Linked DNA regions of Homo sapiens. The protein of the gene in region 4 purifies or fractionates together with the protein of the main gene of each other region. This does not show direct contact. Each region holds a gene or a part of one and is shown on either strand. Other genes may lie near its edges. The genes, in order: AP2A2, VPS45, RNF166, SLC35A5, GATM, SLC41A1 and LAPTM4A.

Region 1 (3,436 bases), on a different chromosome or scaffold from region 4:
CCTGGGATCTGCAGTTGGGCAGGGCTGCCCCCAGCAGGGTCTGGGCTGGTAAGAGAAGCTGCCTCTGGCTTTGGGCCCCTGCCCTCCCTCCATTAGGACTGTTCCGTCTCTGGCGAAGCCCACCGTCCTCCGGGGGCCACCCCCATCTGCCCGAGAGCCCCTTCTGCACCATCTGTGGTAGGATCAACTGGAGGATCCCCACGGGGCCTCCCGTTCCCCAGGAAGGAGCCCTGGGCTGCACCTCAACACACTGTACAGTGGGGAGCCCTGCGGCCAGGCTGGAGGGGTTCCCGCATGACCTGAGTCCCAAAAAGCTCCACCACACACCCAGAATCAAACCGGCGGAGCAAAGGGCAGGTCACTTTCTGATGCCCGCTGCCCGTGAGCCCACTGCTGAAGGACAGGTCGGGGACCTTGGGGTCTGTGCCTCACGCGACCCCCGGGGAGCTATGAGGGTTACATGGGATGCTTTCCCCCCAAAGAAAGCGCGTGATCCGGGGTGCAGTTCTAGCCTTTATTTTTCTTTGACGAGGAGTGCCACACTGAGGGCCCCTCTGCAGCGCCGCACAGGGAAGCGGTGCCTCGGGGAGCAGCCTTTCCTCTGATGGCGGGAGGGGTCAAGGGATGCAGGAGATCCACGGCAGCACACGCAGCCTGCAGGCGCAGCACACAGGCAGAGCACTGCCCAGCAGCTGGAACATGAGAATGAGGGCCACACCACCCAGCTGCAGCACAAGCCCAGCACGGCGTGTCACGGCACCTGGCACCACCAGACCCAGAATGGCCTGTGCGAGAGGCGCACGCCACTGACGTGGCTATGCTGTGATCAAAGCCCGACACGCCGGAAGAAGAGCCGCAGACATTGTGGGGTGCACACACTGCAGGGGAGCTGTGGAGACCCTGATGGGTCCATGAGCCCCTGCAGCTGCCCCAGGGACCCGCACAGCAGGCAACTGAGGGCCAGGGTGAAAACCCTCAAGCACATGTGGCCACCCACCCTCCCTGCCTCCACAGCATGTCAGGAAGCCAGAACCTGTGCTGGGTGTGTTTAGGACAAACAAGGCCACCATCCTGGGGACAGAGCGCAAGGCCCCAGCCTTGGCTCCTAGGCCGGCCCCACTCTCTCGCCTCTCAGGTGTCAGACGTGCAGCCTGGGTGCTGAGTCCAGATGACAGGTGAGACACAAGCCGCAGGTGGCACATGGCATGCGGCCAATGGCCCCTTCACTTCCTGACCACACAGAGGCGTCCCTCCTCCACAGCCCCTCCAGGGACGACTGGACGGGGCCGGTGGAAGGACTCAGGCCTGCACCGTGGCCTGGGGACGCCCACTCTGACAGGAAAGAGACGAGCACACCTCTGAGTCTTGCGCCACCGGCCCACACTTTACCCTGGAGTCCTGGGGGCCCTGCGGGGCCGGCAGGACGCTCCTCCCCTGGCTGCACATCCAAGGCCTCGGCGACTGCAGGAGCATAACAGACGCCCTTCACAAACAGGAGCTGGGAAAGGAGAACAGTTACATCCGGCCAGGACACGTGCTTTTGCCAGAAGTCATTACAAATACAAATGTTTCTAAATTCTAGATTAAAATCCTGCCTGGGAAAACAGTCCAGCTGGGACTGCAGCAAAACCAGGGTCAGCTGTGCTCCTCCCAAGGGCCCAGGACGACGCCAGGTGTGCAGCCACCAGGACGGCCACACACCAAGGCTCAGCCCACGCCATGCACAGTGGCACTGCTGCTCCCAGAGGCTCCGAGGCGGGGTGGGCGGCAGCACGGGCCATCTCAGTGACACTCCCACAAACGCCACGTTCACGCCAACTTCTAATTTCCCTTTAATTTGTAGATTTAACCACAGAACTGTCTCGATTTTTATAAAAATTGATCCCAAGATCCACCTTCTGCCGTGGCTGCCACAGTCCAGGCTGAGCTTTTCCTCCTGAGCCACACACGTGTGTTCCCGTCCAGCCCAAAGGGGAGAGGTGTGGGGCGGCGGGGCGGGGAGGCGCCTTGTGCTGTGGCACTGGACACGGTGCTCATCTGCAGGATGGCCACGAAGACAAACGGCACAGACGAAGACAACACAAGACACACGAGCCTGGTCTTCCATCCTCAGGACTAAAACTGCGCTGAGAGCAATTCACATAATCTCTGAGAAACGGCTTCCTTACTTGTGCGCAGCGTGAGCCGGTACATCTGAAACAGAGAGCACAGCAGGTCAACGGGCACGCCGAGGCTCACACAGCCCTCGGGTCCAGGATCCGCCATGCAGAACCCTGTGGGCCATGCCCAGGGACCACTCTCTGGAGGCACCCACAACTCGGCAGAGGCCTGAGCACCACACACACTGTCAGCATGAAAACTGAGGGCTGGCATGGGAGCGCCTGGCGTCTCGTACGTAGCTGGCGGGAGTGCAAAGTGGCACGGCCACCTGGAGAAGCTGTGGGATGTTCTTGCAGCACTAACCACACACAGGCCCTGGGCGACAGCAGCACTCCTGGGTGCCACCCAAGTGAAACGGAGACAGGTGTCCGTCGCCAGAACGGGACGTGGTGAGAAGGAACAACGCGGTGACAGAGAGGAACAGCTGGGAGAGCCACCGCCCAGGGCCAGGCTGCTCCATGGTGGGACGATGCTCCACGGTGGCCAGCTGTGGGGAGGCTGGGATGCAACCATGTATTGACAGGGTGGTGGTTAAACAGGCACACAACATCTGTCACAACTGACTGAACTGCACTAGGGATGATGCTCCACGGTGGCCAGCTGCGGGGAGGCTGGGAGGCAACCATGTATTGACAGGGTGGTGGTTAAACAACATCTGTCAAAACTGACTGAACTGCACTAAAGAGCTACACATCTCACCACGTACATTGTGCCAGAATAAAAAGCAACTCAAGTGTGTTCCACCATTTCCTGAGGGCCTGACCTGGGCTTGCAGGTTCGGCTCCAAGCGCAGCAGGCATCCAATCTGGGTGGTTTTCGTGTGGATGATTCCAGCTCCCACGAAATTCGCAGGATTAGGATCAACTTCTTCAAGAAGTGCAGAACCAAATCCAATGATCTGTCCAAAGAAACAGGAGAATGAGGACCCTGGCGCGGGGTCGCGGGCAGCGTGTCCCCCGGGGCCGCCCCTCCAGACCCTGGCGCTGGGTCGTGGGCTGCGTGTCCCCCGGGGCCGCCCCTCCAGACCCTGGCGCTGGGTCGCGGGCTGCGTGTCCCCCGGGGCCGTCCCTCCAGACCCTGGCGCGGGGTCATGGGCTGCGTGTTCCCCGGGGCCGTCCCTCCAGACCCTGGCGCGGGGTCACGGGCTGCGTGTCCCCCGGGGCCGTCCCTCCAGACGTGTTACCTTGGCTTTGGTGACTTCTGTGTCCATTGGGTGCTTTGCTTTGAAGATGTTCTGCACTTCCTGCTGTGGACTGTGAGAAACAGCAAAGGCGAG
Region 2 (3,500 bases), on a different chromosome or scaffold from region 4:
CCAAAGAAACTTTGGTAAGGAGAGGTAGGATATAAGCCAAGCCAGTCTGGGTCCAAAACCTGAGTTGTTTCCAATATAACAGGTTGGCATTATTTTATAGAATAAAGTGGAACTGTAGCTGGGAAAGAAAGAAGCTAAGCTTTAGAATATAGGGCCCTATTAACAGGGAAATGTGCTTCTTATAAGTGGCTTAGAAATGGCTATTTCCTAAAGGACTCGTAGTCCTAAATTACTTGTCAGTGACATCATACTTTGTCATTTCTCAGGAAACATGGGATTACCTCTGATTTATTCTATCTTTATATCCAGCCTGTCGTCTAATTCTTCTCCCTTTGAAATGTTTTTCAGTTCAGCCCCTTGCTGTACATTTTTACTACTATCACTGTAAGTCTACAAGTCTCTCTGACCTGTTTTTTCACCTCTAAAGCATCCTTACTAGGTTACATTTCCTAAAATACTGCCTTCCTCACCTCAACTTTCTACATAAGATCCTATACTGGATCTCTTTGCTTATCTCAGCAGGTATAAATTCTTACAAGCCTCTTCATAAAGCTTGTAAACTGTTTTTTGTTTACCAATTCAATTTTATCTAATTCTGTTTCATACTCACTCTCTACAGGTCAAACTGTTTATTACTTCCTGCATATTTCTACATCTTTGCTTTTGCTGCTCCTGGCTGAACTCCTTCCCCAAATTCTATTCATTCTTTTGTGGTCCATCCAAATCTTGCCTTCTCTAAGAACTGTTCCTAATAACCTCAAAACCTGTTACAGTCAGTATTACAATTATGACTTAATTCTCATCTTGAAACATTATCTAATTTTTTCTTGTGCTTTAGTTTTGTCTCTTCAACTAGACTATACATTTCTTGAGGCCAGAGTCTGATTATGTTGCTATTCTTCTAAAATCCTCCGGGAGCCCCCATCATTTTAAGATTAAAGCCCAACTTCCTTCCAATGGCCATAACCTGGCTTCAGTCAGTCTTTCCAGTCTAAGACCACTCATCTTGTACCCTGGACTAGCCACACTGAACTATTCTCTGTTCCCATATATATATTTAAATATATGTATATTTCAAATATAAATATTTTATATATATATAGAAAATATATATATATATCAATATTTATTTCTTCACATCTTCATGCCTGCATTCTCTCTGCTGAGAATGTTTCTTCCTTTTCCCTGTTTGATGTTATTTTCCCTAAGAAGTGCTAAGAAGCTTCATCCTTGGGGAAAACAGTTGTCCTTCCTCTGTATTTCCATATTCCTTTGTAAATACCTCTAATATAGTACATAGTGCTTGGTATTACAATTGCTGGTTTAAATTTCTTTCTCCCCTACTGTAATGTGGTATCTTATTCATCTTTGTATTCAGATCCTCACAGCAGTAGTATATACATATAGCAGGCATTAATATGTTGGTGCGATGAAAAGCAGATCTTCAATAATGAAAAAACTTAGACAATACATTTTAATATATGTTTTATCTTTTAAAGTCTTCCTAACCACTCTGTGAGATGAGTATTAATATACCTATTTTACAAATAATGAAACTGGCTCAGAGATTAAGTCAACAGCTCCATGTCACAAAGCCTGTAAGTGGTATACCAAACACTCCAATCTAGATCTTCTGATTCTAGTTTGGTGCTCTTTCTAGTAGACTAGGCTGCCCTTATACTAATTAACTGAACCCTTGGGAATTGCACATTACACTTCTCTTGTGACTCTTTTTATAGATCTATCTTAAATAATATTAATTTGTGTTCTCATGTCAGCTCCTTGTTGGACTAAATTCCATGTTGATGAAGAAGGATTACTTGCCTTTTTATCTCTTGCTCTGCCTGGCACAGTGCCTTACACATAGTAGGTGCTCATCAAATTGGACTGACCTGGAGAGCACTAGAATGGTCATTTTGACAGGCCAGTTCTTGCTCAACCTCTGAAACCTCCAGCAGATTCCGTTCACTGACCAATCGAGACAGTTCTCCAACCACTGTCACATGCTTTGAAACAGTCCCAGACATTTTCTTGAACTGTGGATAATTCTCAACAAACGCCTGCCATGGGAAAAACATCAATGGGAGGTTCTGTTATTTTTTGACTGAGGATAAGCATGTACTGAATGGGGGTTGGGGAAAGCGGGGGTTGTTTTTCAGCCCAGATTAAAGCATCTACAACTTTCAGCCACATGGCATTTTGTTATGCTTAAGAAGAGAAGAACTGGTATATGTTGGTAGACTGAGTTTTTTTTTTTTTTTGAGACAGAGTTTTGCTCTTGTTGCCCAGGCTGGAGTGTAGTGGCGTGATCTTGGCTCACTGCAACCTCCCAACCTCCGCCTCCCAGGTTCAAGCGATTCCCCCGCCTCAGCCTCCCGAGTAGCTGGGATTACAGGCATGCGCCACCACACCTGGCTAATTTTGTATTTTTAGTAGAGACGGGGTTTCACCATGTTGGTCAGGCTGGTCTTGAACTCCCGACCTCAGGTGATCCACCCGCCTCGGCCTCCCAAAGTGCTGGGATTACAGGCGTGAGCCACTGCTCCCAGCAATAGATTGAGTCTTTAAATAGTCCAGATATTACTGAAGAATGGAAAGAAGCACATGGCTTATCATAAAGTTTTCACTATATTGTTTAAAGACATTACAGAAAATAAGTCTCAAACCAAATAAAATCAATCAAGGTAGAAATTAGACCCAGAAGATTCCAAAAGTGTTGCTTACATGAATAGTACCAAACTGTCACATGTTTGTCATTCATGTACATGTTCAATTTACCTTCATGTCTGCTATTGATTCTAGTTTTTGCTGTTCTTTTGGTTTCTTCTTCTGAAAATCTTCCATGAGATTCTTTATATTGCTACCAATCTCAGCAAAGTTCAGGTACATATTCTGTGAAAAAGAAAGTTGGAAGCACACTTCATCAACTAGTCTGACTTTCAGACAACTTGAAAGAAGTGAAAAAGAATTTGGAACACAGAATTGAAGGGCAGGGAAATTCTATTTTAATTACCAAATTTGGACATTAGCTGGGACACTGTTGATGAATACCATTACTATTCTCACAAACAGCTACTGGAGGGGAGAGAAGTAAATAACTACGTGATCTCTATGAAAAAAAATTGCTAAAGGGTCAGAATCCAAGTCTTCTGCCTTCCCTTCAGAGGCAGTTTATGCACAGGATGCCCCTATCATCCTTTCACATGAAATCCCATGCCTGCCCCTATACTAACAAGCCAATATTGATCTTCTTACATAAAAACAACTAAAGACAATTTAAAAAAATTTAAACCACCTACATTAGCATAGAATTCATCATTTTCAGCAGATAGGACCACTTCTCTTAAGTCTTTACTGATTCCCGGCACTCTGGAAAGATCAATCCGATTGTTGTTTATGCCTAGTAGTTCGTGGACCATGGCCTGATATGTCCACTAAATAAAGAATTATGAAAAAAAAAGGTAACTGACAGAATATGGAAATAGTAAACGTTCAGGAAA
Region 3 (3,500 bases), on a different chromosome or scaffold from region 4:
CTGCCTGGGGAGGACACAGCCGACCTCCAACACAGACAGCAGCTGGCGATTCCACACCGTGGAGCACAAAAGCCAGTCGAGGCTGCTAGAGATGCTCTGAGACATTTTATTTAAACTTTTTTTTTTAAAAAAAAGACAGCAATAATTAATGCCAAGAACAGAAAAGAATGTTGACGTGTTGCCCGGCCCGCCAAGCGGGCCCCTGCCCAGGCCCCCAAGCTCTGCCACCACTGGGGTGCCGTCCCCTCCCGCAGCGGGGCACAGTCAGCTTTGAAGGTGACAGCGGGCCAAGGCCAGGACTCTGGGTGGAGGAGGCCCCTTCTCTGCCGGCCCCGCCTCTGCTGGGAGCAGCCACAGCCTGTGGCTGGGGTGCTGGGATTTCTTCCTGGTCATCAAAGAGAAACGTACAAACCTCAAGGACCCAGACACACAGTGGGTGGCCAGGGCAGACCCCACAGCAGACCCCATGGCTCGCCTGAGCTCTGGCAGCTGCCCCACTGCTCCTTCCATCCTTGCCCCAATCCCCCAATGCTTGTTTTGATTGTTTTCTTAAAAAATATAATTTTGTAAATGTTCCATAAAAATACTATTATTCCTAGTCAAACACAGATATTGCAATATGAAGAGTAACTGCTCTGTCTTTGCTCTATAAAACGTGAAAAGATTATCACACTGGATAATATAGAAAAGATGCCAGGGTTCCTAAGTATCACAAAAGCCAGTACCAAATGCGCAAGGTGGAAGTGGGGCCGGGGCAGGGTCGGGCTGGGCAGGGCAGCAGCCTGGGTTCCTCCCGGCTCGACTGCGGAGCGCGACTCGCGCGTCGGTCCCTTCTTCCCACGAGGGGGTATCATGGCTTTGAAGAGACGGCGGCAGCTCCAGGTCCCAGCGTCCAGCCCTGCCCAAGTAGGCCGCCTGCTCGGCCAGAAGCACCGAAGAACCCAGCGACGCCGGTGGGACCAGGCGGCCCTGCTCTGGCGGCCTCGGCGGCTGGCCCGTATTCAGGCCCGGAGGCTCGGCCCCGGCTCCCCTTCTGCGCGGGTGCAGGCTCCTCCTGTGAGCTCAGTCCGGTGAGGTGCGCTCCCGAGCAGGTGCCAGGTGCGACACAGGAGCGGGGACATCCCTGACCCCAGACGCAGGCGGGTGGCTGCGCTTCCCTTCAGTTCTCAGAGAGAGACAGGGCCAGAGCAGCCTGGAAGGCGGCCTCCTCGTCAATACTGTAGTCCTGGAGACAGGAAGGAGAGATGCACCGGGCTCGAGGGAGACAGGAAGGAGAGGTCCCCTCTGCCCATCACCCACACAGGCGTGTCCACCCTTCCTGCCTCCCTCCAGCAGGACACAGGAAGGACCCAGCTCCACTGTCCCCACAGGCTCGGGGCCTGCACGGTCCTCTGGGGGGTGAGAAGGTGAAGGTGTGTCCATCACCCGCTGGGTACGGGGGCACTCGGAATGGATGGCTGCTGGTTCAGGTCGGACTCTAAGCCCGGGGTTTCCGAGGTGAGCAGGCCGGCCAGGGCTCCCTGACCTCTAACAATTTCCATCCTGAGGCAGGCGGAGCGTGGGTCCCGGACGACTGGCAGAGGGAGTGACAGCCATCGCCAGGACTGTTAGCCAGGGCCAGGAATGAACAGGGCGGCGCAGGGAGGGGCCGCACCAGGAGTGAGGAGTTTGTGCGAGGGTCTGCAGGCCCGGGGGCCAGGTGTGTGCCTGACCCGCGGCGGGTGGGAAAAGGAGACAGGGCTGGAGTGTTCGATGTTGATGAAAGTCCTTCCCGCGCTCTCTAGAAAGCTTCCAGAAGGAAGCCTGGCTCACCCTCGAGGGGTTCTGTGGGGTGGGCAGGCAGGGACCTGCCCTGTGCGGTCCATGTCCCCGAGAGGCCTGGGCACCCTCTAGTGGCCACTCAAACTCAGCTGCCATCACTCCCCACCTGCAGGCAGCCCCCACAGAACCTGGGGGAATGTGGCCACCTGAAACGAGGCTTCTGTTTCTGGCTTCCTCTGAACCCTGCGGACCCTGAGGCTGGCGAGGGGCCCGAGCAGGAGGAGGGTGGATGAGGAGGGCGTGGGGGAGGACGGTGCTGGCGGGATGCCTACCACAAAGGTGTCGTAGGAGAACTTGTGTCGGTGAAGCAGGTGCTGCAGGAAGTTGGCGCTCTTGTAGCTGGGGTCCCCCCAGGGCATTGCCGAGCAGATGGGGCACACCTGGAACAGGCACTGGGGTCAAGCCGAGCCGGACCGCGGAGAGGCGGGGTAGCCGCAGTAGGACTGGGGGCCCTCCACTGAGCCCCGTCAGTGCTGCCTCAGCCTGGGAAGGCACCCCAGACCTGGAGGCGCGTGTCCCGGTGACAAGCGAGTTATTCAGTGCGCGTCACCCTGAAGGACTCATGGACACTCCCCGGTTTCCGCCAGGTGCTGCTCGGGCAGCCAAGTTCCCACCCTGGGTCCCAGGAGGCCTTTGTGGCCTGGGCACCCCCGGACTCGCCGCGAGCAGGCTCCTGGGCCTTGTACTGTCCCCCACAGGCCTCCCCTGGCGCAGGCGTCGCTTGGGGCAGGCACTGCTCACCACGCGGTTGGGGTCGCTGCGGTGGCTTTCCACACAGTGCTTCACCAGCTCCTGCTGGTCCAGGTTGCGGGCACCACAGTACGGGCAGGCGAAGGTGGACCTGTTGGGGATGTTGCTGGCGGGGCGGGGGTAGAGTGAGTGGCACGGCTAGGTGTCTAGGGGCTCTGCCTCCCCGCTTCTCTCAAACACAGGCGTGGCCCCAGGCCTGCCCTCTGTAGGCTGCAAGAGCGTGGCAGTGGCTGGGTGCCCCCCGTGCCTCTGCACGCCATGGCCTCCTGAGGACACACCCAGGACCCTCGTCCACCCCACACAACTAGGCCAGCCAAACGGCAGAGACTCTGCTGGCGCTGCCCTGGCAGGAGCCGTCTCTCGGCCCATCCACCTGCTGGGAGGCGATGTGTGGGCCCGGCCTGCGCCCTCCTCCTGCTCCCCACAGCTGAGCTGTCCCTACCCCAGGGGGCCTGGTGGGTATGCCAGGGAGGGCAGCACAGGAGCCTTCCTGCAGGGTGGCAAGGAAGGTCCACTTCCCCAGAGTGGACCCGGCCCCGGGTGACTCCCCCAGCCTCTCTGGGATGGGGCACTGCGCTTGCTCCCAGAACGAGGAAACCGCCGAGGACAGTTCCTCTCCCTTGCCCGGCAGCGTGCCTACCTGGGGATAGGCTGTGATGTGGGCACCACGGGGACGAACTTGGGGCAGTTGGCCATCTGCTCCTGGACCTTCAGGCAGGACGAAATGTGCACTCTCATCTTTGCCAGGGTCACCTAGGAGACAGGGCAGGGAGGGCAAGGCGGTCCTGAGAATCTGGAAGGGCCGTCCTGGGGAGGCCGAGACCTCAGGTGTCCAGGACCAGAGAACTGTAAGCAAGCGTCTGTGTTGCCAGCAGCAGGGGGACCCGGTCCCTTCTGCTGCTAAAACAATCTCAGGCACTGAGCAGCCA
Region 4 (4,123 bases):
GTGCTTTGTTAAACAAATGCTTGAAGGCAGCATGCTCGTTAAGAGTCATCACCACTCCCTAATCTCAAGTACGCAGGGACACAAAACACTGTGGAAAGCCGCAGCGACCTCTGCCTAGGAAAGCCAGGTATTGTCCAAGGTTTCTCCCCATGTGATAGTCTGAAATATGGCCTCGTGGGAAGGGAAAGACCTGACCGTCCCCCAGCCCGACACCTGTAAAGGGTCTGTGCTGAGGAGGATTAGTAAAAGAGGAAGGAACGCCTCTTTGCAGTTGAGACAAGAGGAAGGCATCTGTCTCCTGCTCGTCCCTGGGCAATGGAATGTCTCGGAGTAAAACCCGATTGTATATTCCATCTACTGAGATAGGGGAAAACCGCCTTAGGGCTGGAGGTGGGACATGCGGGCAACAATACTGCTCTTTAAGGCATTGAAATGTTTATGTGTATACATATCTAAAGCAAAGCACTTAATTCTTTACCTTGTTTATGATGCAGAGACCTTTGTTCACGTGTTTACCTGTTGACCCTCTCTCCACTACTATCCTATGATCCTGCCACATCCCACTCTCCGAGAAACACCCAATAATGATCAATAAATACTAATGGAACTCAGAGGCTGGCAGAGATCCTCCGTGTGCTGAGCGCCGGTCCCCTGGGCCCCCTTTTTTCTTTCTCTATACTTTGTCTATGTCCCTTTCTTTTCCAAGTCTCTCGTTCCACCTAACGAGAAACACCCACAGATGTGGAGGGGCAACCCACCCCTTCACTCAATAACTAGTAAGAAGTACTCAATACAGTTTTGTGGAATTAAAGTGTTTGCTTAAATCCCTACATAAAAAAAGATTTCTTAAATACATACTTATCAAAGCTTATAATTTATACTGTTGATACAATATGACCGCACAATATAATGCTGACACCTTACCATTGATACAATAATTACAATAGTAAGTACCTCACAAATGCCAAGTGACCAAACAAATATATCCTTCTACTTCAAAATAAGGCGCAATTACACATTTTGCTATAGGTCCAGAAACACCTGTTGATTGAATTAACAGTCAAATGTTACGACTGGTTCTTCACCAAAGGGTTTGATTTTTGTATCTGATTGACTCACATTTCATCCATTATCAAACATTTTTTCTTGTTGAGGAATGCAAGGTTAAATAATCAAATTTAAATATGCTTTATCACTCACATGAAGCAAAAGGCATTATTATTTCCATGTTATATATAACAGAACCAAAGGCAAGAGAGAGATGTGTGATTAGATGGAAGTGCTCCATGCATATACCAAGTCTTAACTTACCTTCATTGGCAGAATACTTCACTAGTAAGATGCGACTTGAGCTTAAAGCAATGAATATGGCACCTAGCAGGAATGTATACATTGTTGACAAGGAGCATATTACAGGATGACTACAGCACTGTTTTTCCATTCCACTGTTTTTTAATTACCTTAAAGAGAAAAACACTTTCATGAACGACCTTGTTGGCAGACCCTAAACGCAAATACCATTGATCGTGAGGACAAAAAAGGAATTTTTAAAAAATTTTGGCTATGACTATATCAGCACCAAGAAAGTTGAGGCATAAAGAAACTATGACAAAAGGAAAGTGAAAATCTGATAAGAGGGAGTACTCTGGAGACAGAAAACGTAGAACCAGATTAGACCTGCTGACAAAGGTAGCAGGTGAGCAAATGACACTTTGCAACAGCAGAAAAGAATTCTTCAAAGCAATTTTGAATTTTATTTTTAAATTTTATTTATTTATGTATTTTGAGACGGAGTCTCGCTCTGTCACCCAGGCTGGAGTGCAACGGCGCGGTCTTGGCTCACTGCAACCCCTACCTACCGGACTCAAGCGATTCTCCTGCGTCAGCCTCCAGAATAGCTGGGACTACAAGCGCCCGCCACCACGCCCGGCTAATTTTTGTATTTTTAGTAGAGACGGGGTTTCACTATGTTGGCCAGGCTGGTCTCGAACTCCTGACTGTGATCCGCCCGCCTCTGCCTCCCAAAGTGCTGGGATTACAGGCGTGAGCCACCGCGCCCGGCCTCGCTTTTACTCTTATTAGTAAATAATTTTGCTGTAAGATAAGGCTTTCAGAATTGTATTTTCCTCCTCTTTTCCCTCGGAGGAAAAAGCTTATTAGGACAGACTTCATTACAATAACGACCAAAATGGAAATATCTGAAACACTGCTGTAAAGTTTTACTGAACTAGTTAGTGTTTGAAATGGAGGAGATCGTAGAAATCAATGAATCTAAGGCCCTCTTTTGATAGGCTGAGGACACTAAACCCCAGGTTGGGTAAGTAACTTGCCCAAAGCCTCCCAGCGTACTGTAGGAATAGCGCATAGAGCCTGCGGGGAGTGGGGAGAAATGCCAATACTGACAGCCCCATTGGGCGCACGCCTACAGGACGCCTCCCCGACAGGAGGGGGCCAGATTTCCCTTCACAGTCAGGGACTACCCTTCTAGTCACACATGCGCAGTAGGGCTCTTCACTGGCGCACCCTCCCCTCAGACGCAGGCGCAATTCCTTGCCCGCGGGGCGCGGTTACCTCCCTCAGAAGAGCTTCTAGTGGAAGAACGCACATCCTAGAGCTGAGACAGTAACTGTCTAGCCCCGTAGTAGCAGCAGTAGCCTTTAGGGTCCATACGTGGAGAAGCTACAGTAGGTATAGGCGAAAAAGCCCCTCCCTCTAAGCCGCCTATTGCAGAACAAAAACCACGATTACGTCCGGATTGGGAAAAAGCGGACCCGACACCCATTGCGCAGGCACGTTCAGTGTTACGCTTCCGGAAGGAGGGGAGAAGCGGCTTATCCCGCCCCAGCCCGGCCCCTTTCTCACGTCACGTGCCGGGAGAGTCTAGTGTCACGTGAGGCCCCGGTGGCGGCGCAGCTACGGCAAGAGAGTGAGAAGGAAGGGAAGCCGGAAGGGGCGCGAGTGAAGCAAAGCGAGGACAGACAGCTCGCAGAGGGCGAGGGGTGCGTGTGCGTCCGCTTCTCACCTCAGGTCTCCCTTCGGCCCCGCTGCCCTCCCTCGCGGCTGGGTGACAGCTGGGTCCGGTCCGTCGCGGGCTGCCTGGGGTGCGAGGATCGCGCACCCCGTCTTCGCGCGCTGTGCCTGCCGCCCCGCCCCCTCGTCCCGCCCGTCCCGTCGCGTCGCGTCCCGTCCCCTCGGGTGCTGCCAGCCGGGTGCTGATGCGAGTCGGTGGCAGCGAGGACATTTTCTGACTCCCTGGCCCCTGACACGGCTGCACTTTCCATCCCGTCGCGGGGCCGGCCGCTACTCCGGCCCCAGGATGCAGAATGTGATTAATACTGTGAAGGGAAAGGCACTGGAAGTGGCTGAGTACCTGACCCCGGTCCTCAAGGTAAGCCAGGCCAGGGTTGCCGGGAGCTGTCAGGCACATGCTCGACTTTTCAGGGACCAGGCGCCGCAGGAGTCCCCGCTTTCTCCGGCGGGGCAAGGTGTAGGAAGGCAGTAGGGCTCGAGACACAGGGAAGTGTGCAGCCCCCACCCGTAGTCTTAACCGGCTGTTCGTTAGGGCTTTCTGACTCCTCAGGGGTAAACTTGGAGCGACGCTCTGCGTGTTCCTGCCTTCTCCCGTCATAACTCTGCGCGGTCGGGTACGTCGGGTTGGAAGGGTGTTCGGAGGCTGAGTAGATTGAAGAACGTTAAATCCAAACACTGGAAGTCTTTTAGCCTTTTTAAGCAAGGATTTTGCTTCTCTTTAAAAAATGAATTTAGTGTTTGACACACAGAGGTCAAAAGAGACCTGAGGTGAGGTCACTTTTCCTTTAAGTTTCATGAAAGTCCGCTGTAGTGGGGAAGTTGTGACTGCGATCCCAACTCGTTTAGATTTCAGAGGAAGGAGGTGAAATTGGCAACATTATCTCATTCAGTAACCTTGAACCCATCTAACGAGCAAAACCTTTTTCCCAAGCTTTTCAGATAGCCGTAGCTGGTTATTAGTGATAACAAGGCACGGTTTGACCTTCCTGGCTGTATAATTTTTAAAAATATATTGGCAACAGTACAGCATTTTTAAAGTAAAAAATTGTGACACATTAGCTGTTACAGTAGTGACTGATTTTTTTTTTAAAGG
Region 5 (3,500 bases), on a different chromosome or scaffold from region 4:
TTTAGAAAAACTGAATGATGCCAGTGAAAGTCTTAAACAGAGGCTGGTAAAAAAAGGTCCATAGGCAAATTTGGCCTGCTGCTTGTTTTTGTAAATAAAGTTTTACAGGAACGCAGGCACATTCATTTGTTTACGTATTGTCTATGGCTGCTTTTGCACTACAATGGCACAGCTGAGAGTTGAGTAGTTGCAACAGAGACCGATGGTCTGCAAAGCCTAAATTACTTATTATCTGGTAGAAAGATGAAGTTTGCTGACGCCTGGGGTCTGAATCATTAATTAGCTCTTTTACTAAGGTCTATAGGCAAACAGCAGGCTGAATTTCTGGACTAATGAAAAATGTTATCATCATTAAACATTTTTAAAGACCAAGCTACCCTTTCAAAAAACAAAATAAAAGCACTCCACTGTTTTCTACTCCTAGGAATTTCTGCAACAGCAACCAGAAAGAGGATAATAATGACTCTTTATATTCCTCTCAGATACATGCTGGTACTACTCATCCATTCACCACTTCCTCCTTCTCATGCCAGGCACATCTCCTACAATCCACTAGGGACAAGAAGCCTTTGAAAATTTAACACTGGGTTACAGCAGATGCAGAGTTATGCTGTCTTGCCAGACTCATTCCAAAGTATCCTCCGTGACTATTTGTGCAGGGTGAAGCTTGCCTTGATAAATTAAACCTTCCTGGGAGAAAAAGGTTATTTGAACAAATGTGATTTTTTCTTGTAGAGTTTATAATCTGGCAAAGGTTGGGCAAAGTACAAATGATCAGGGCACAATACGTTTTACAAGAGATAGCTAGAAATTGTTTACACTTCCTTTATAACCCTGCTAAATGAGCCAGCAATCATTCACCAAGTTGTTTGCAAGATGATGAACACTATATTAGACGCTTAGCATATGATGCTTTTAATAATCTGTTGCAAAGGTATGTCTGCATTCCTTGAACCTTTATATTCTTTCAAAGCCTAAAACCCTTTACAAAGGTTTGCCAAGTGAATTTTTAAATACTGTCTTTGGAAGGCTAAGAAATGACAACAGAAATGTATTTATCCAGCTGTAAGCTTATATTACACTAATCTTGATTAATCTTGTATTTTATAAAAGGTCCTTTATCAAGGGCTTTATTTTTAAAAGACAAAAGCAAAACAAAAAACATATTTGAGGCTGGGCACGGTGGCTCACCCCTGCAATCCCAGCACTTTGGGAGGCCAAGGCGTGTGGATCACGAGGTCAGGAGATCGAGACCATCCTGGCTAACACGGTGAAACCCCGTCTCTACTAAAAATACAAAAAAAACAAATTAGCCAGGCCTGGTGGGGGACACCTGTAGTCCCAGCTACTTGGGAGGCTGAGGTGGGAGAATGGCATGAACCCAGGAGGCGGAGCTTGCAGCGAGCCGAGCTCACGCCACTGCACTCCAGCCTGGGCGAGACAGCGAGATTCCATCTTAAAAAAATATATATCTATATATATATATATTTGATAGCAGATATTTACTATATTTTGCAGAACAAAAAGTCACAGAGCTTTAAAAAATTATGCTTCCCAACAATTATGTTCCACATTCCTTTCCTTAAAATTTCTCTAGTACTTATATCTTCCAACATCTTCTGCTCTGATTGCCTATGGACAGTTTACTACATTATTTTTTCTTTTATTGTTCCCAAACTGATTAATATATGTGTCATTCTTCTCTACTACGAGGCATGGCCTTGCTTGCTAGGATCCATGCATGTCTTAGATTTACTTTCTTCTCCCTCAAAACCAGGCTTAGCACATGGCATGAAACAGAAATAACCATTATTTCCTGTCTAGAATCAAAGAGAGAAAGAGAAAGAAGAATAAACAAACAAAAAGAACCAGACGAATGAAATCAATACTGCTAATGTTACTGATATCTACAACTATTACACCGACAAAGTACCTTTGGAATGTAATTGGCAAACTGGATCCATACAACTATAATAAGTTGTTGTGTTGTCCTTTAAAATACTTAACATGTAACCTTTTATCTTTAGATTAATCCTTAATCCTGTTAGGTAGATAGCAAACTAGCAAACCTCTTAATATCTTCATTTTACTGTGGCCCAGAAATTTGTGGAATCTTGTACAAGGTCAAATAGCTAAGTAACCGAGACTAGCTATCAAGTTTTTATCAAATACCTAATTAATCCCAGACTCCTGACTTCAGCATGGTACTTTTTCCACAAGTCCATGAAATGACAAAGTCTAAAGTCATAAATCAAGTGACAAAGAACTCAAAATTACCTCTGAGAATTCTGATTCTGTAAAATCGCATGATATGAAAGTCTATCATTTTAAAGACAAGTAGAAGGATAAATTATTGCTTGGATTTAAATTTTAATTTCACCCAATTAAAATGGTTAGGGGATGGGACTTTTCAAGAAAAGACTTAAAAAGACTACTATGCCTTTTAAAAACATGTGGATGGTGTATAAATTAATCTTCTCATCAAATTCCAAATATCAGAACCAAAGATAGTTTCAGAACAATTAGAAGTTATTACTTTTTCTATTTCCCTGTCTTCCAAGTCTAACTCAGGAGTCATTTTCTTCAAGAGGACTTCTTAACTGGCCAGCCCTTGGTCATTCCTCTTTCCTGGCACTTCAACTGCCTTGTCAGTCGACTGGAATAAGATACTTGGTCTTCGTTTCTATGTGAACATCAAATCTCTTCAAATAGAAAGGAAGATCTTTTATATTAATACCTCTAGAGCCCTGGTACATGGTAGGCAATATTTCTGAAGACCACGACAATGCTGTTACAGAACTTCTTTCCTCAATCCACTTTACAAATAAAAGTGTAAATATTCAGGAAAAATTTAAGGACACTAAAGATACATTTGTAACCCATTATTAATAGGAGTCTAGGCTGTGTCTACAATGTGGAAAGTGGTCCCTTAGATATGGAATCCTTATGCAGTATAGAACCTGAACACCAGCCCATAGAGGCCCTGGATATAAGAACGTTACAGATAAAAACCACTAGGAGTTTTTGTTTGTTTGTTTGTTTTTGAGATGGAGTCTCACTCTGTTGCTCAGGCTGGAGTGTAATGGCGCCATCTCAGCTCACGGCAACCTCTGCCTCCTGGGTTCATGCCATTCTCCTGCCTCAGCCTCCCAAGTAGCTGGGACTACAGGCACCCGCCACCACGCCTGGCTAATTTTTGTATTTTTAGTGGAGACGGGGTTTCACCGTGTTAGCCAGGATGGTCTCGATCTCCTGACCTCGTGATCCACCCGCCTCAGCCTCCCAAAGTGTTGGGATTACAGGTGTGAGCCACCGCGCCTGGCCACCACTAGGAGTTTTTAAAAAGAGAGATATTACTTGTTGCCAGGGAAATCCTGGAAGACTTTGTGAAAGGTGTCATTGAAGCTAGGTGGTGGTAGGTTTAAACTACAGACTAAAGGGCACAGGAAGATGGATGGAAGAGACTTAGGTAGGGGCAAAGATGCAGGGCTTGTGAAGAA
Region 6 (3,500 bases), on a different chromosome or scaffold from region 4:
TGTAACTTTTTAAGGATACGAGAGTAAACCAATATTGCTCCTTGCAGCCAGGCCAAAAGTACATGCAGTTGGTACAATCGGGGAAAAGAAATGAAACTTCCATGAAAGTCACCTTCATTTTCTTTCCCTCTCACCCTACAGTCCTCCTCTGCTCACTCAGGGCCTGGGGCATGCCTATCTGTCTGCTTTTTAGGCAAAGGAGGTCACTCCAGAGTCTTCTGGGACTGCCTGGCCAAATTCCAGAGATGAGGAAGGGGCGAGTGACTGGGGTAGGGGTGGCTGGAGACCACAGGGACACAGCCTTAGGGGCAGAGGAGTTGGTTTTGATGCCTGTACAAGAAGAATCTGTGTGTAAGTATTTTTTGAGGTGGAGGAAAAGATGAAAAAAGTCCAGAGGGAGGAGGAAAAACAAGCCCAGGCTGGTGTTAATGAATTCTGTTGGACACAACTCCAACTAGAAAACCTCTAAAATTCCTTCCAATTCTACGGTTCTATGATTCCAGAAGGAGGCCTGGAGGTCTGGGTAGAAATGGAGGGAGAGAAAATATGGTCTCTGGAGGTCTAGGGCAGGTTCCTGGGATAAGGTGCAGTGTTGGTAGAAACAGGATCATTGCCTAAGCCTTCCCTTGGAGGTGGGCCCTTGAGGCTACAGATGGAAGGGTTTCTGTAGAAGCTTCTGAGAGAGAAGTTAGAAAAAGCCTACATCCAAATCCCCAGATCTGTACACGTGTGACTGCGGATGGAGGCTCCAGTTTTCTCCCAATTTTGTGCTAGGCAGAGAAAAGTAGAAACAACCAGATGATGTCCACCCTGCTAGTTCTAAATCCTCTTTTGGGTGCTTGGTAAGGAGAGGTGGAGGGAAGGGAATGTGAGGAAGGGTCGTTTAGGGAAATAAATACTGGTTGAGCAATGGGGCGGTGGCTCTAGCTGTGGTCAGCACTGCACAGAGTAGGGGTCTGGAAAGGAGAAAGAGGCAGAAGAATCTGGCTTGAAGTAGATGCAAATACTTACAACGAGGAAACTTTCTCTGCCAGATTCAAAGGGGCACATGGCCTTTGTAACCTGGAGAATGAGGTGAGGTTAGAGCTGTGTTTCCCTTACCACTGGCTTATCAGTGCCTGGCACAGTACCTAACACATAGTAGGCACTCAATAAATATTGCTCAAAGAATGTTTCAGACCATGCTTGTCTGCAGGAGAGCTCATCTTGCGGAGGCTGCATATTTGCTAAATGAACGAATAAATGATTGGTGAATGTTTGTGGGTAGAAGCCAAGAAAGAGGAAAACTGACCTCTATGGCATGACAGAACGAGTAATTTTAGGAAGTGACAGGGTCCAAGGTGACCAAGTGATTATGTCCTCAGGAGAAATGGCAGCAATGAGACACCTGTGGTTGTCCTCAACCTCCAAACCATTCTCCACATACCCATGACCTGACCCTAATCTCAAAACCCAACCTGGCAAGCTCTGGGGAAGGTAGTGCTTAGAGACAATTTGAGATGAAGGTTGAAGAGAGACAAAGAATCTGGGCCCAGGGAGACAAAGTCATTTGGGCCCAGGGAGAATGTGGATTTTGGGGAACCAATAGGTGGACATGGGTCAACAGGGAGAAGAGTGCACTGTTCCATTTTTTCCTGGATATGACAATCAACTGGAAATGATCAGAGGGAGGGGTTGTTGATGTTGACCAGGCCATTGAACAAGAGGCATGTGCACAAATTGAAAAGTCAGTCCACCTTACTCTTTCTGCGAGTGGGAACGCTTAGGTCCAGAGGGCAAGAGAACAGAACTGGGATCACAGGGGCCTGGAGCAGGTGTCTCCTGTCCAGAGCTTTGAAGTTGGTCCACTTCTACAAAAGTATGTCTGTGTTTGGGAGTGTTACTTATTCTTCTGTCCCTCTGTTCAACCAAAACCAAAAATAAAACAAAACAGATAAAAAGAAAACAAAACCAAAAATCCAGAGCCCACTTACAAAGGGTTTCTCATTAGGGCCAAGACAGGTTGCTAAAGCCAAACCCCATGTCCCCAGATTCCAGACAAAACTCCCCTGCTCCAGTCCACATCACCTGGAGGCACCCACCATGAAACTGCACTTGGTGATTGTCTCAAAAACCTACTTGTACTGCTTATCTCAGGCCATCTGTGTTTCCCAAATTCTTGCTATACAAACTTGGCTCAATGTATAAAAATTCCCATTGAAAATAATGAGAATTTGGTATCAAAGTGAAGTCCTAGAAAGAGGTGGGAGTGTGGGGTGGAGGAGGGACAGGGGAACAAAAGAAAAATTTCAAATAGAAAGTGCAGAGGGATGGGGAAAATGTTGAGTGACCAAGCTAGTCCCCGACATCCGTGTCTCGGTCCCCTATGAGCCAGAGAACATGGAAGCTGAGTGCTAGGAGCCCAGTGCCAAGCAGGTCCCCCAGAGCAGTCAAGTATGGGATGGAGAAGTTGTCCGGGTCCAGGCCCCGGCCCCACATCCAGTGCACCATCCAGTCTGCGATGTACAGGAGAATCAGCACCTGGGGAGACAAAAGGGCCCAGCCTATAGCCATCCTCTCTCTCCAGGGGGAGCCAGAGGCCACATGATCAGACCCATTCAGTGCATCACAGGGCTTGGCTGGCCATAATCCTTACTTTTTAATCTTCCTCTTTCCACCCCAGCAACCTCTCTGTGTTTCTCCACCCCACAATTACCACTTTGAGCAGACAACAGGCACAATAAGAGCTCTTTAGAAAGGAAGATGCTGCTACGACCCAGGGTCACCCACATCAGCATTATATTCTGCTCCCAAGTTTACCAAACAAGGAGCTTCCTGACCTAAATCCTACTTGTTGCAGAAACTCAGCCCTCTTGCCTCTAACTCTGGGTCACCTCATTCTGGGGTCACTCCAATTCCTGCCATGTTGGCCTTTCCAGGAGCATGGCAGGGGGCTGGCTGCTGGAGTCAGCTTTTCCTAAAGGGATGTCTTCTCTCGGCAGAGTGGTATAAGGATAGTGTTTGAAGCTGCTGCTGGCGGTTGTCTTAAGTAACAGATGATCATCCCAAGCTGGCTTCCTCCTGACCCTTTTCATTCTGTTGTTGTGGCTTTTCATTCCATTCTTTTCCATTGTTTGGGCTCAAAGAATGCAAGTTTATTTTAACATTAGTCCTAATAAAGTTGAATTGTGAATAAGTCACCTCAATATTAATATAAAGCAGACAATGCATACCAATTCAAAATACATTTGACATGATCTGTGGCTTTGATTTTATCTGTGTTCTTGCTTACCTTCTATTAATACAGATAATTAAGAATGACTCAGATCAGAATCTCGCTAGTGGGCCCAGGACCAGCAGCATCAACAACAGCTGGGTGCTTGTTAGAAATGCAAAATCTCTGGACCTCTTGAGTCAGAGTCCGCATTTAACAAGATTTACATGCGCTTTTAAGTTGGCGATGCCCTTGATCTAGAATACCACGGTGGGGCAGGCCTGAATCTCCTAGAATCTGCACAGTG
Region 7 (4,018 bases), on a different chromosome or scaffold from region 4:
AATGCACTACTTGGACAAGCCTTCTTTGCTTCGAAGTATTATACTACAGTTTGGCTTAGGTGGTCTTGCATCATAAGTGTTACATGTCTCCCCAAGTTGGTAGAGACTGTCTTTACACTGCTATGGTATTCAAGCTACTCTTTTGAAAGTCATCAACAAAACTATAATAAACAAAACCAATGGCCTTTTTCCAGTACTTATTCTGATTAGAATCTGATATTACTGATCACCTTCTCCTCCTCCTCATCACTGTACCATATGTTTTTCATATCTGTGCTCCAAGTTTGTGATACCATAAATATCTTAAGGGCAGATGCTGTGTTAGACAAGAAACATTTGAGAGTCTAGCACTTAGCAGGTAATAGGAAAACAAGGCAAATGACACATGGCCCCTGTGATTTATTCCTTTTGTTTGTCCACCAAAGCCTTTTACACTGCAGGTGGTCAGTAAATCTCTTAATCAATTTAAGACAGGTCAAACGATTTAAGAAGTTTACAATAAAATGTTTTACACTAATCTGAGAAGTCTATGCAAAGTAAGAACAGCTATGGCATCTTTTTAAAATTGTGAAACTAAAGCATGGTCTTCAGAGGTATGTGAACCCTTCTCACAACAAGGGCTTAAAGTAGGGAACAGATGTAAACTCCTCACTCCCTATTTTGTAAGAATAAGCGCCCGTAATGAAGTTTTTCTCTCTGCATTTTGAGTTTCCTGTTTGTAGTTCCCACTTTATCCTGCTATTCTATTCATTTTCTAGCTGAGCCCACAGCATCAAAAAATCTGCCTGAGAAAAACTGAAAAGAAATACAGCCAATTACATTCGGATGGTTGAAATAGAAATGGTGGTATTCTCTTCTTGAGGAGTTAGGAATCCTTTGTTCTGTGAGTGGAGGGAAGGATCTGAGAAGAAACAGGAAGACTAAGACTGCAGGAGAGAGCCAGGTCGATGGATTCTCTTAGTTAAATAGGAAAGAAAGTCATCTTCTGGGGGTGAGGAAGACGGAATTGAGTAATAGCCTTGAGGATCCTCAAGGTTTGAATTATTCATTTAGGGAAATAGAAGACAGAGCTAAGGACAAACAAAAGAAATGAGACCCAGCCCCTCAGCAAAATGGAGAAGCTATAAAAGGAAGTTAGAAACATAATGCAGCTGATGGTCATTAACTCTATGTTTAGTATTCCAAATCAGTTAAAATACAGAACGAAAGAGTCTCTGAGGGAAAATGTGATATAGTTCTGTCAATAAGGCGGTATTTCCGAATATAAAAGTACAGGAAACATGAAAATAAACTCAGCACAAGCAAACCTACACATTCGTGTTGTTTTTTAAATGTACATCAGAAACAAGACGGTAAAAAACAACAGGGCAGGTAGCAGTCATGTGGAGTCAGGTAGTCCCCCGGGGGTGGGCCATGAAACAGTATCTGCCTCATTTAAGATGATTCTCATCTGGCGTTTGTCCAAATGCTTACTAATGATTTCAAGTCAATGAGTGGGGAGAAGCAGCAAGTACAGAGAAAACAGATTGTGTCTGGGATAACTCTCTTCCTCTTTTGCAGTTAAGTATCAAAAACTGCACAGTATCACCAACGTCACCCACACAACCACATTCGCGAAGTCATTAAAGTGGCCAAGTCGACCATGTAGGAAGTTTGTCACGGCTTCGGCAAAATCATAATAACCTAAAACTACCTAAACTGAATCCCATATTTGGAAGTCATAGACAAGTTAGGTTTAATGTGCATGGATACTATAAATGGTGAATTACAAAAGAAAAAATCACAAACTTATTACTAGTGAATCACCAGGCAACAACAGTGTCAACTTGGTTAGGACAGAATCACACAGATCTTGGAACCCAGGAGATACCGGGGTAGGTGGCCAGGATGGAGAGGGCTCTCAATAAAGGTCTCTGTAAAAACAGCCGGTCGGCTACGAAAAGCACCTACTGCGCAGGGAGGAGGCTGCACCAGGACAAAAGCTGGTCAGGCGTCAACTCAGGCAAAAGCTATCGCCCCCAAGCGATTCTGGAGATGCAAGAGAGGCATGAAACAAAACAAAGTCCAAGAAACGCGGACAACCGGGTTACCGCTGGATCTTTCGCTTTCCCAACGGGAAGACCAATGTCGAAACTAGACTGCGTTTACCAAGGTCCGCTCCTAATTATTTCATTAGAGGAAAAAATTCCAGGGAGCACTGGATAGGAGGAAGGGAGATGCTGCCTTTCAGATCGTAGAAATACAACAAGAACCAAAACAGAGGAATTCCCACCAAATCCTACCACCCTCGTCCCTTCGCCTGCAAAGCCTCTGCTCTCCCAAGCCCGCTTCTCTCCTCAAATTCTTGCCAAAGAACAATCTCCCCATGCTTACCACCGCCCCCCGCTCCCCCGACTCCGATTCCTGAACAAGGTTACTTTCCCAAAGTCCTTGGACTTCATCCAGAGTTGGCGCGCCTTAAAAAGCAGCGCCCCTCCAAGTCCCCGCCCCACCCAACACCCCGTTTCCAGTCTCACCCCCTCCGCACCAGGCCCCGCTCCCCAGGCCCCCCGGACATACGCGCCACGCCTGCCCGCCTTACCATGTACCAGGTCCCCAGGATGATCGTCCCGGTGCGGACATGGCAACAGCCGCAGCACCGGGTGCTGTAGAACCGGTCACTGCGGTTCCGCTTGAAACTCATGGACACCATCGTAACAGGCGGGCCTCCTTCTTGGCCGGGCCCCTGACAAACGTTCTCCACCCGCAGCCAAACTCAAACGGCTGTTTCACGGCCTCCAAAACCCAACGACGCGTCTTCAAACCCGCCCCCGGCTCGTGCCCCTGCCAGCTTCTTCGCGCCTGCGCACTGAGCGCAGCGACTTCGGCTTACCCACCCCTCTTCCTCCACACAGGCCAATGGGGAGCGGAAGGCTGGATGGACCGGACTTCTGATTGGAAGAACTTGGGGATTGACAAGACCTCACGCCCAATTAGAAGTGCAACTCGCCTCAGCGAGTCTCCGCCTGTTACGCGAAGGCAAGGGCTGGTTCTCGGGCCTAGGATAGTTGGGGATAGGTATGTCCCCGTAGTGCACTATTCCCGAGATGAGACCCGCAAGAAAAGAGGCATTTAATGGAAAAAGGGAGACACGAGACAGCGCGGATGGCAGAAAGCGGGCACAAGGGGCTTTTCTGAGCAATGTGTGCCACGTACTGGATGGGAAGCGTCACAGGCTGATAACGTGACCTTTGCGCGCAGCTCAATTATTGCGCGGGCTGGGGGCGGGGCCTGCGGGGAAGGGACAGAGCCAAGCCCAGCCTTGAGCCATCCTCGCCCCTGTGGCGGAAATGGGAGGGTGCCTGGAGGAGTGGAGGGATTGGATTTACACCCTCTTTTCCCTCCGAAGCCTCCTTGGTGGGGGCGAAGAAAGACCATCCAACCCTGCCAAAGGCAAAAGGATTAAGGATAAATGAAAGCAAGATAATGTAGAAGAACTACTTAGCTGCTGGGTTTTTGGAGATGAGTGATTTTTTTTTGTAGGGAGAAATTATGAAACACATTGAAATGGACAAAAAATTACTGAATGTCTTCAATGAAAAAACAGCCATAGTTTGGCACACCGTCCCGGGCATTCTGTTGCTAGAGGGGCTGTCCGCTTTTCTTTGTGGTGCTCTGCACAACTCGGTAAGACCCCTCGTATTGTTATCTTACCCTTCCTTGGGAAAAGCCATTTTGCATCGATTTGTAAATTCATTCCCCAGTCCTGATTCAACAATATAGATGGGTGCTTTAAATTCTGCTTAGAGCTGGTTCTAACAGCTTACTGGTCCCCGGGTTAATGAGTAAATAAATTTTTTACACGTGTTCATTTTGTATTTCTGTGAGACCTGTGACTTCACCGTTAAAAAATGTATTTATCATTTAATGCTTTGGTAAACACACTTCTTTTCAGAGAATAGAAAGGGCTTCCCTTCTGCCAGGGCATATTCTTAGCCAGAGACCACACTGAATTCAGAGTAAAGGTTATTTCTTTGGC

What was found.
Region 1: the proteins of SLC35A5 (region 4) and AP2A2 purify together in Homo sapiens (affinity purification with mass spectrometry; one large-scale study listed by BioGRID and IntAct). This does not show direct contact.
Region 2: the proteins of SLC35A5 (region 4) and VPS45 purify together in Homo sapiens (affinity purification with mass spectrometry; one large-scale study listed by BioGRID and IntAct). This does not show direct contact.
Region 3: the proteins of SLC35A5 (region 4) and RNF166 purify together in Homo sapiens (affinity purification with mass spectrometry; one large-scale study listed by BioGRID and IntAct). This does not show direct contact.
Region 5: the proteins of SLC35A5 (region 4) and GATM purify together in Homo sapiens (affinity purification with mass spectrometry; one large-scale study listed by BioGRID and IntAct). This does not show direct contact.
Region 6: the proteins of SLC35A5 (region 4) and SLC41A1 purify together in Homo sapiens (affinity purification with mass spectrometry; 2 studies listed by BioGRID and IntAct, with this or other methods). This does not show direct contact.
Region 7: the proteins of SLC35A5 (region 4) and LAPTM4A purify together in Homo sapiens (affinity purification with mass spectrometry; one large-scale study listed by BioGRID and IntAct). This does not show direct contact.

The regions. Positions count from the first base shown.
Region 1 is NC_000011.10:1,009,305-1,012,740, reverse strand, and holds the end of AP2A2 (AP-2 complex subunit alpha-2), read right to left. Parts: intron 3,414-3,436; coding exon 3,344-3,413; intron 3,059-3,343; coding exon 2,924-3,058; intron 2,194-2,923; coding exon 2,116-2,193; 3' UTR 501-2,115; downstream 1-500. UniProt on the Homo sapiens protein: Component of the adaptor protein complex 2 (AP-2). Adaptor protein complexes function in protein transport via transport vesicles in different membrane traffic pathways.
Region 2 is NC_000001.11:150,081,276-150,084,775, reverse strand, and holds part of VPS45 (vacuolar protein sorting-associated protein 45), read right to left. Parts: intron 3,435-3,500; coding exon 3,300-3,434; intron 2,893-3,299; coding exon 2,779-2,892; intron 2,061-2,778; coding exon 1,893-2,060; exon of another isoform or gene 1,825-1,892; intron 1-1,824. UniProt on the Homo sapiens protein: May play a role in vesicle-mediated protein trafficking from the Golgi stack through the trans-Golgi network.
Region 3 is NC_000016.10:88,696,409-88,699,908, forward strand, and holds the end of RNF166 (E3 ubiquitin-protein ligase RNF166), read right to left. Parts: exon of another isoform or gene 3,326-3,500; intron 3,325-3,325; coding exon 3,212-3,324; intron 2,678-3,211; coding exon 2,563-2,677; intron 2,202-2,562; coding exon 2,094-2,201; intron 1,708-2,093; coding exon of another isoform or gene 1,526-1,707; intron 1,226-1,525; coding exon 1,160-1,225; 3' UTR 93-1,159; downstream 1-92. UniProt on the Homo sapiens protein: E3 ubiquitin-protein ligase that promotes the ubiquitination of different substrates. In turn, participates in different biological processes including interferon production or autophagy.
Region 4 is NC_000003.12:112,560,722-112,564,844, reverse strand, and holds the start of SLC35A5 (UDP-sugar transporter protein SLC35A5), read right to left. Parts: upstream 2,801-4,123; 5' UTR 2,572-2,800; intron 1,461-2,571; 5' UTR 1,442-1,460; coding exon 1,312-1,441; intron 1-1,311. Other genes in the region: ubiquitin-like-conjugating enzyme ATG3, read left to right, coding at 3,317-3,388. UniProt on the Homo sapiens protein: Probable UDP-sugar:UMP transmembrane antiporter involved in UDP-alpha-D-glucuronate/UDP-GlcA, UDP-GlcNAc/UDP-N-acetyl-alpha-D-glucosamine and UDP-N-acetyl-alpha-D-galactosamine/UDP-GalNAc transport from the cytosol to the lumen of the Golgi.
Region 5 is NC_000015.10:45,372,045-45,375,544, forward strand, and holds part of GATM (glycine amidinotransferase, mitochondrial isoform 1 precursor), read right to left. Parts: intron 1-3,500. UniProt on the Homo sapiens protein: Transamidinase that catalyzes the transfer of the amidino group of L-arginine onto the amino moiety of acceptor metabolites such as glycine, beta-alanine, gamma-aminobutyric acid (GABA) and taurine yielding the corresponding guanidine derivatives.
Region 6 is NC_000001.11:205,789,199-205,792,698, forward strand, and holds part of SLC41A1 (solute carrier family 41 member 1), read right to left. Parts: intron 2,521-3,500; coding exon 2,335-2,520; 3' UTR 1-2,334. UniProt on the Homo sapiens protein: Na(+)/Mg(2+) ion exchanger that acts as a predominant Mg(2+) efflux system at the plasma membrane.
Region 7 is NC_000002.12:20,048,829-20,052,846, forward strand, and holds the start of LAPTM4A (lysosomal-associated transmembrane protein 4A), read right to left. Parts: upstream 2,801-4,018; 5' UTR 2,693-2,800; coding exon 2,582-2,692; intron 1-2,581. UniProt on the Homo sapiens protein: May function in the transport of nucleosides and/or nucleoside derivatives between the cytosol and the lumen of an intracellular membrane-bound compartment.